Linked DNA regions of Homo sapiens: region 1 is linked to region 2. Evidence: fine-mapped expression QTL. A gene starts in region 2. The other region holds a variant in brackets. All regions are shown on one strand. Distances are from middle to middle.

Region 1 (4,380 bases), 130 kb before region 2:
TGGAGGCTGCAGTGGGCTGAGATCGCGACACTGCACTCCAGCCCGGGAGGCAGAGTGAGGCTCTTGTCTCAAACAACAGCAACAACAACAAATAGAAATAGGGTCTCTGCAGAGGTATCTAGGGTGAGGATCTTGGGATGAGATCATTCTGGATATAGGGTGGGCCCTAAATCCAATGACAGGGGTCCTTGTAAGAAGAGAAGGGAGGTCGGGCACAGTGGCTCATGCTAATCCCAGCACTTTGGGAGGCTGAGGCGGGTGGATCACTTGAGGCCAGGAGTTCAAGACCGGCCTGGCTAATATGGCAAAACCCCATCTCTACTAAAAATACAAAAATTATCTGGGTGTGGTGGCACACGCTTGTAGTCCCAGCTACTCAGGAGGCTGAGGCAGGAGAATCGCTTGAACCTAGGAGGCAGAGGTTGCAGTGAGCCAAGGTCTCGCCACTGCACTCCAGCCTGGGCAACAGAGTGAGACTCCGTCTCAAAAAAAAAAAAAAAAAAGGGAACAGAAGGGAGAGGCAGCACTGAGAGAGATACAAGGGGTGAACGTGGGGGTGGGGCCTCCAGAAGGAACGAACCCCACTGACACCTGCTTCTGCCTTTCGAACGGCGAGGCCAGAATGCGTTTCTGTTGAGTTGCAGCCTCTGGTTTGTGGTCATTTTTCAGAGAGTCCTAGGAAGCTCATATGGCCATTTGGAAAGCCTGCAGTGATAATTTTAGTCAGTATGCTTTATTTCCTTTTTTTTTTTTTGGAGTCTCGCTCTGTCGCCCAGGCTGGAATGCAGTGGCACCATCTTGGCTCACTGCAACCTCCACCTCCTGGGTTCAAGCAATTCTCCTGCCTAAGCCTCCCGAGTAGCTGGGATTACAGGCACCCGCCACCATGCCCGGCTAATTTTTGTATTTTTAGTAGAGATAAGGTTTCACCATGTTGGCCAGGCTGGTCTTGAACTCCTGACCTCAGGTGATCTGCCCGCCTCGGCCTCCCAAAGTGCTGGGATTACAGGTGTCAGCCACTGTGCCGTGCTTATTTTCTAACTTTCTTTTTCTCAGACCAACCTTAAAATTGACGAATATTCCACCAGTTCACCTGGCTGGGCCCACAGAGAAGCCTGGGCTGGAGGCCAGGTGGGTGGGTGCTGGCCCGCCCGGAAGGAAGTGCTTGCTGCAGAACCCCCTGGCCAGGGAGCCCCTCGGGTGCTGGGAAACTGACTGTGGGCAGGGCCGGTCTGGCCTCAGCTGGTCTGGCCAGTAGAGCCGGGGGGCATTGCTCCACGGGGGTCTGAGGGAGCCCAGAGGCTATAGACTCCTGCTCTGGGGCTAACAGGAGGCCAGGAGTAGCAGCATCTGTGGGTGGGGGAACAACAGGATTTTCATGGCACCTCCCCACCCCTCCCCCAGCTGGTGTCACCTGCTGTATGGCTCCTGTGTGGCTTTGGGCATTTGGGGAGGTGGGGGAGCATTTACTGATGACTGATGGTGCCTGTGGGAATGGGCTTGGCGGTACTGATGATGAGACACAGGACAGAATGGGGGACGTCCCGATATGCCCTGGAGCCCCAGAGGCTTTATGACGCCCCCCACGTTGTCCTTAGGGTGCACCTTGCACACTGAGGCCTGGTAATCATTAGGTGTTTGTTAGGATCTAGGTTTGTCTGAGTGTGGCAGAGCCCCCAGCCATGCTGTTCCTGACGGAGTGTTAGCCCTCAAACTGTGTTCTGAGGAGGGGGTGGAAAGGCAGGCAGGAATTCAACATCCTGCCCCAAATGGGCACACGTCACCTCTGTTACGGGGTGAATTTTATTTCCTAAAAACACATATATTAAGTCCTAACCCCAGTGCCCCAGGATGTGACCTAATTTGGAGGATTGTGGCAGATGTAATTAGTTCAGATGAGGTCAGTAAGGTGGGCCCTAATCCAATAGGACTGGTGTCCTTTTTAGAAGAGGAGATTATGGCCTTACACAGTGGCTTGCACCTGTAATCCCAGCACTTTGGGAGGCCGAGGCGGGCAGACCACTTGAGGCCAGGAGTTTGAGACCAGCCTGGAAAACACAGTGAAACCACAGCTCTACTAAAAGTTTAAAAAAAAAAATTAGCTGGATGTAGTGGCACATGCCTGTAATCCCAGCTACTCAGGAGACTGAGGCTGGAGAATCACTTGAACCCGGGAGGCGGAGGTTACAGTGAGCTGACATCATGCCATTGTCCTCCAGCCTGGGGGACAAGAGCAAAACTCCATCTCAAAAAAAAAAAAAAAAAAAAGAGGAGATGAGGACACAGAGGAGTACCTAGGGACAACCCTGTGCAGACCCAGGGAGAAGATGGCATCCATAAAGCCAAGGAGAGAGGCCTCAGGAAGAGCATGCCGGTGGACATCTTTTTTTTTTTTTTTTTTTTAGATGGAGTCTCGCTCTGTC[G/T]CCCAGGCTGGAGTACAGTGGTGCGATCTCGGCTCACTGCAAGCTCCGCCTCCTGGGTTCACGCCATTCTCCTGCCTCAGCCTCCCGAGTAGCTGGGACTACAGGCGCCCACCACCACGCCCGGCTAATTTTTTGTATTTTTAGTAGAGACGGGGTTTCACCATGTTAGCCAGGATGGTCTTGATCTCCTGACCTCGTGATCCGCCCTCCTCGGCCTCCCAAAGTCCTGGGATTACAGGTGTGAGCCACCGGGCCCGGCCCCGGTGGACATCTTGATCTTGGACTTCCAGCCTCCAGGACTATAGGAAGACAAATTTCTGTTGTTCCAACTGCCCAGGCTATGGTACATTGCAGGGCAGGCCCAGATACAATCTCCCTGCACGTTCTGCTATCACCAGGCAATGCCTAGCTGCATAGGAGGCTGGGAAATGTAGTCTTGATTCTGGGCGGCCACATGCCCACCAAGTCAGGAGATCAGCTACTGTAGAAGGAGGGGAGATTCAGCGGCAGGGCTGGACTCGCAGTCTCTGCCGTCGGCACACGTGCAGGTCTGCAGGGCACACAGTGTACATGCTGCTTCCTGCTCATTGGGTAGCCAGTGAACCATGTGACATCCGAGTCCCCGGGAATTAAACCAGCAGAGAACTCTGGCTCAGCTCTGCAGGGAGGTAATAAAGGTGTCCTACCATCCCTGCTAGGCCCGAAGCAATCAGCAGTGCTGACACTCTCTGTACATTTGGAGTGCCAGAGGCTGTGGGTTTTTTCCTTGTTTCTTTTTCTTTCTTTCTTTCTTTTTTTTTTTTTTTTTTGAGACAGACTCTCACTCATGTCACTCAGGCTGGAGTGCGGTGGTGTGATTTTGGCTCACTGCAACCTCCACCTCCAGGGTTCAAGCAATTCTCGTGCCTCAGCCTACCCAGTAGCTGGGATTACAAGTGCCCGCCACCATGCCTGGCTAATTTTCATATTTTTAGTAGACACGGGGTTTCACCATGCTGGCCAGGCTGGTCTCAAACTCCTGACCTCAAGTGATCCACCTGCCTTGGCCTCCCAAAGGGCTGGGATCACAGGGGTCAGCCACCATGCCTGGCCGGTTGTGGGTTTTTTCTTAGTTTACATTCTTTCACTCTTCCTTTTAATATTAGAATTCCCAGAGCTGGGCCGAGCACAGTGGTTCACACCTGTAATTCCAGCACTTTGGGAGGCCAAGGCGTGGGCCTGGGCTGATGGGATTTGCTGCCGTGGGAGAAATGGCCAGGACAGTGGCTTTCCTTGGCATTGTCAGTGAGTGAGGCCACAGAGGTTCATGACAGTCCCCCAGCCCCACTTTGCTGCCAGGCTGGCTGGGCAGGGGATCGGAATGGGCATGTGCTATAACACCGTGTGGTTGGCGTCTGACAGCATGGAAGTCCAGTGCGGGCTAGTCAGGCTGGTAAAATGGGTCACACCTCAGAACTGCCTCGTGTGCTCTTAAAAACCGCAGCACTCAGGCTATATACCCTGGCCTGTCCCATCAGACCCTCTGAGGGTGTCACTAGTCGTCAGCCGCGCCACTGGTCTACCCCTTGGGTTGGGAAGGGGGCTCCCAGGATTTCCACGTTGCCTTCCTATTACAGTAGGTAGCCAGTCAGACGTGAGCGGTGCGGGAGAGGGCTCCCCTGCTCCCCGTCCCCCAACCAGGAAAGTCAGTTGACCATCAGGTGATGGTCAGGGAGCTGTTTGTTTGTTGTTGTTGTTGTTTGAGTCTCGCTCTGTTGCCCAGGCTGGAGTGCAGTGGCGCAATCTTGGCTCACTGCAAGCTCCGCCTCCCGGGTTCACGCCATTCTCCTGCCTCAGCCTCCGGAGTAGCTGGGACTATAGGCTCCCGCCAGCACGCCCAGCTAATTTTTTGTATTTTTAGTAGAGACTGGGTTTCACCATGTTGGCCAGGGTGGTCTTGAACTCCTGACCTCGTGAT
Region 2 (4,380 bases):
TCTCCCTGCCAGTGTCCTGTGCACTCCAGCTGCCGTGGTCTCCCCGGCCTCTCATCTGAGCTCTTCCTGAGTTCTCCTTCCTGGCCCCTTGTCCTGGAAACCCTCAGGCGGTGACCTGGGCAGTTTAGGGCTGTTTCCTGTCTGCCATGGACTGAACGTTTGTGTCTTCCCCACCCTCCGGTTCCTGTGTTGAAATCCTGGTGCCCAAGGTGACGATATTAGGAGGTGGGGACTTGGGGAGGTGGCAGAGCCCTCAAGAATGGGGTTAGTGTCCTTACAGGAGAGATCCCAGAGCCGGGCGCGGTGGCTCACGCCTGTAATCCCAGCACTTTGGGAGGCCGAGGCAGGTGGATCACCTGAGTTCAGGAGTTCGAGATGAGCCTGGCCAGCATGGAGAAACCCTGTCTCTACTAAAAATATGAAAATTAGCTGGGCATGGTGGTGGGCGCCTGTAATCTCGGCTACTCGGGAGGCTGAGGCGGAGAATCACTCGAACCTGGGAAGTGAGCTTGCAGTGAACCGAGATTGTGCTACTGCACTCCAGCCTGGGTGACAGAGTGAGACCCTGTCTCGAAAAAAAAAAAAAAGAGACCTCAGAGAGCTCTCCCACCCCTTCTACCAGAGGCGAAGGGGACCCAGTGGGAAGGTGCCGTCCGTGAACCAGGGAGTGGCCTCACCAGACATCGAATCTGCCAGAGTGTGGATCTTGAACGTCCCGTCCTCTGCAGCCGTGGAGATGCGTGTCTGTTGCTTTTATGCCGCTCAGGCCATGGCGTTTCCGGATAGCAGCCAGGTTGGAGGGACCCGCTGTCTCTCTGGGACCACTCTCTTCGTCGCCTGATGTCCACCGTCTTGACAGATGTTGTTTCCCATATTTCCTGGAGTTTTTTAGTTGCTAAATCCTGGCCTCTGCTACTCTCTTTGCTAAAAATGCTAGTCCTTGATGAAATGGAATCTTGATACTTTAATACAGAGTGGAACATAGTCACTAAATAAAACCTGGAAAAATGTAGAAGAGTAGCAGGAAGAGAACACACCCCAGCCCCGCGGTCCACCCACCCGCAGTCCCTATCGCCACCTCCTGGCTCTGGTTTCCCTGCTCGTGGGGCTGGGCAGCATTGCTGCAACTCTTGATTCGCTTTCCTGGGGCCACCATAACCAAGCAGCACAACCCGGGAGATGGCTCAGAGTCTCTCTGCGTCCTGGGAGCCTGAGATCCAGGAGTGGGTGGGTTGGAGAATGGTTCTCCCTGGGTCACTCTGGAGGACCTCTTAAGGTGGACTTCTTAAGGGACCCCCGGCTCCCACCTTGCCAAAGAGCCTCCGAGCCACACCTGCCTCCCGCAGGCCTCCAGTTGGTGCCCACATGCAGCCCCCGCCGTGGGGTCACCCTGGGGTAAGGGTCTCTCCTCCCCTGCTAACCTTCTGCTGGGTCTTGGCATCCCTGGGATGAACCCTCCTGGCCTGGACCTTGCCGGCCCACATCAACCCCCAGCCCTCTGCTCCTTGGCCTCACCCACAGCCTGCAGAATGTAGGTGAGTTTCCTGATGATAATATAATAATAGCAATGATGATGATGATGATGATGATGGCAATAACAATGATGACAGTCAACACTGCCGCGTGCCGGGCTCTGGCCCTTTGCATGTCTGGGCCGGCTGTACAAGGCACTGCTGGGGCTCCCGGGCTGGGAGCCAGGGACAGGCACCGTCACAGCAGCCAAGGGGCCCCCCTACCACCCCAGCACCTGCTGGCCCTGAACCAGCTGCTCCTTGAGAGCTTTGACAGACTCTTCCGCTTGGCAGCATTTTAATCTGCTGGTGCAAGAGCCTTGTCGCTTCCTCAAAGCCTGTGCCCATGGCCGTGGGCAGCTGCCTGTCCCTGTATAGGCAGAGCTGCGTCATGCCCTGTGGCCCCAGGTCTGGCTCTGGGGTTCTGGCTGGGCGGGGCCTGGAACCTTCTGGGAGTCACCATTGACTGGCTGCAGCCACCGGCTTCCCAGCAAGGATGTCCTCTTCTGTAGGAAAATGGGGACGTCGGGAGCATTCTCTGGACAGCAGGAGATGCATGTCGACAGGCTGGCCCTGCCTCTTCCCACCCCAGAGTGGTGAGTGGGGATTCTGGGGACTTCCCTGGCCCCCATGGGCCTCGCGTGTCCTGGTGCCCATGTGTCTCCAGTCCCAGGGTCGGCCACGGTGTGGACCCCTCCACTTTCCTCCAGGCCTGAGGTGGGGCCCGGGCGGCCTGTCAAAGAAGAGCCCAGCCCAGACCCTCCCCAGATCCCTGGGGGAAGGAGGCCACCAGGCACCCTGCCTTCCTGCTGCCTGTCAGGGTGAATCTCAGGGGACCCTGGTGCAGGAGGGGCTGGCTCTGAGCTGGACAGGCCTCTGGGGTTGCCCTGGTGGCCTTCCCTCTCTCTGGGTCAGACGTGCCCAGGCAGGGAGGGTCCAGGCCATGACAGAGCCGGGCCAGCTGGGGACAGGGCATCCCCCAGTGCAATCCTTGTAGCGAACGGGTCCTAGAGTGCAGCTGGCGGGACACTCCCGCCATCACTGGATTTACTGCAGGTGGAGACGGGTTCTGTACCCACGTAGATGAGGAAACAGGCACAGAGAGGGGGCAGCCTGCCCAAGGTCACCGGGGAGGGAGTGGAGAGGCTGGATGCCCTTGGGCCCAGACTGCAGCCTCCCCTCCCCGATGTGCTGCGGCCCCAGTGTCCTGGGCCCCATGTGGCGCCTGAGCCCACAGGTGTCACCAAAGGTCTGAGTTGCGGGGACAAAGGCGGGGACAGGCCCGAGGTGCGGGGACAAGGGCGGGGATGGGCCTGAGGTGCAGGGACAGAGGCGGGGACAGGCAACCCCTGCGGTTCGAGGGGTAGGTGGCCACACGTCAGTCCCTGGGAGGGCCAGGCAGGAGGTGGGCCCAGCGGGGCTGGGAAATGAGGGGCCAGTGCCCCCACGCTCACTGCAGGGGATGTGAGAGGGCGAGTGGTCGCTCAGCCACACCCACACCCGTGTGTACAGGACCCACGCCCGCCCGCCTTGCTGTCCCGCCCGTGCACGGCTCACACAGCTTCTCCCATTATTCAGGCGCTGCCGGGCCCTGCAGGACTCAGATCGTCCCTGTGCCACTTGGCAGGGTCACCCTCACGCCTGCCCGGTGGCCCCACCTGCCCCACCTGCCCAGCTTCTCTCCCTTCTCAGTGCTGTCTGTCCCAGAGCCTCCCATCAATGGGGCCAGAGGGCTCTGGCCCGGCTGTGGGCTGACTGTTCTCCCCAAGATGCCTGAGAGCCACCCGGGCACCGGACTTGCCAACATGCAGGCACACGCAGGCACACACCTGGGCCACACGGCCCTGAGCACACGCCTTGCCCAGCCCTCCTCCGGGCTGTGGTGCGGGTGCCAGGTGCCACCTGCTGGCGGGCTACAGCATCACGGCTCTCGCCCTCCGGAACCTTCCATGGTGCCACACCAGCCTCTGGTCTGGCTGCAGACGGCTTGGGCTGGGCAGGGAAGCTTCCACTGTCGGGGAACCTGGGACCACAGTCTTTGCTCCAAGCGCCCTGGGCGGGTAGAGGCCAGGTCCGGTATGAGGAGCCCTGGTTCCCTGAGGTAGACAGAGCCAGGCAGACGTTGAGGAGACATGGGGGCTGTAGCCCTGGCCCCACTGCCCGACTCTCTCTCTGCATTTCGGGAGCTGGCAAGATCCAAGGGGGTCCCCAAGGCCCTGAGGCTGCACTGAGCACCCCTTTCCTGCTCATTTTCAGATGCAGCGGTGTCCTGGACCCCTGGGGAGAGGTGACCCCCCCAGCAGGAAGCTGGGCCTGGTTTCTGTCCCTCTGCAGCCACAAGGCCTGGCTAGGATGCTGGGAGCACCACACCCTGGAGACTCAGCTCACCAAGGACTCAGGGGCGGGGGCTCCCCTGGCACCTGGGAAGCTGGGCCCCCGGCCCCCTGGACTCCCACCCAGACACCATCTCAACCCAGGTCTGTCTGCTCTCCCCGTCACTGCCCTGGGTTCTCCACTCCTGGACCCGACCCTGGTCCTGGGGCAGTGTCCCAGCTGCTGTGTCCCAGGCCCCCCATCCACTGCCCTTGGCCCACCTTCTATGTGGCCCATTAGAGGGGTGTGGGGGCTGCAACCTGCTTCTGCTGAACCCCTAGGCCTGCCAGGGGGCATCAGGATTCTGCACAGAGAGGCAGGGGACCCGGCCAGACATGCAGGTACCCACGTACCTAATTCTGGGCCTTGGGGCAAGGACTGCGTATTTATCCTGGCCCAGGCAAGTCTGGGGGTGTCTGAGGGGTGGTGAGACGTCTGGGCAGATTGTCCCTGCCCTGCTCTGCTCTGCCCCACCCTGGCCAGCCCTCCTGGCTTC

Alleles and levels. Alleles are on the strand shown, and positions count from the first base shown. SD is a standard deviation of normalised expression in the study named.
With allele G in place of T in region 1, the expression in hippocampus of the gene that starts at base 2,025 in region 2 is lower (moderate effect, 0.46 SD a copy in GTEx).

The links. PIP is the estimated chance that this variant, and not a neighbour inherited with it, causes the effect.
Region 1: its variant is the best candidate, but not a certain one, in a credible set for the expression of LINC02688 in hippocampus (GTEx, PIP 0.67).

Annotation. Positions count from the first base shown.
Region 1 is chr11:916,414-920,793 of GRCh38, forward strand. No RefSeq gene overlaps it. Among named protein-coding and RNA genes, the nearest start is that of AP2A2, 7.3 kb to the right of the region's middle. RefSeq lists enhancers at 2,796-3,090, 3,770-4,269. The variant G/T (reference allele first, on the strand shown) is at 2,424.
Region 2 is chr11:1,047,856-1,052,235 of GRCh38, forward strand. LINC02688 (long intergenic non-protein coding RNA 2688) reads left to right here and starts at 2,025. Exons shown (of 4, transcript NR_160890.1): 1 at 2,025-2,107; 2 at 3,768-3,988. It overlaps LOC124902605, which reads left to right and starts at 1,837. Exons shown (of 4, transcript XM_047427955.1): 1 at 1,837-1,919; 2 at 2,024-2,107; 3 at 3,768-3,988.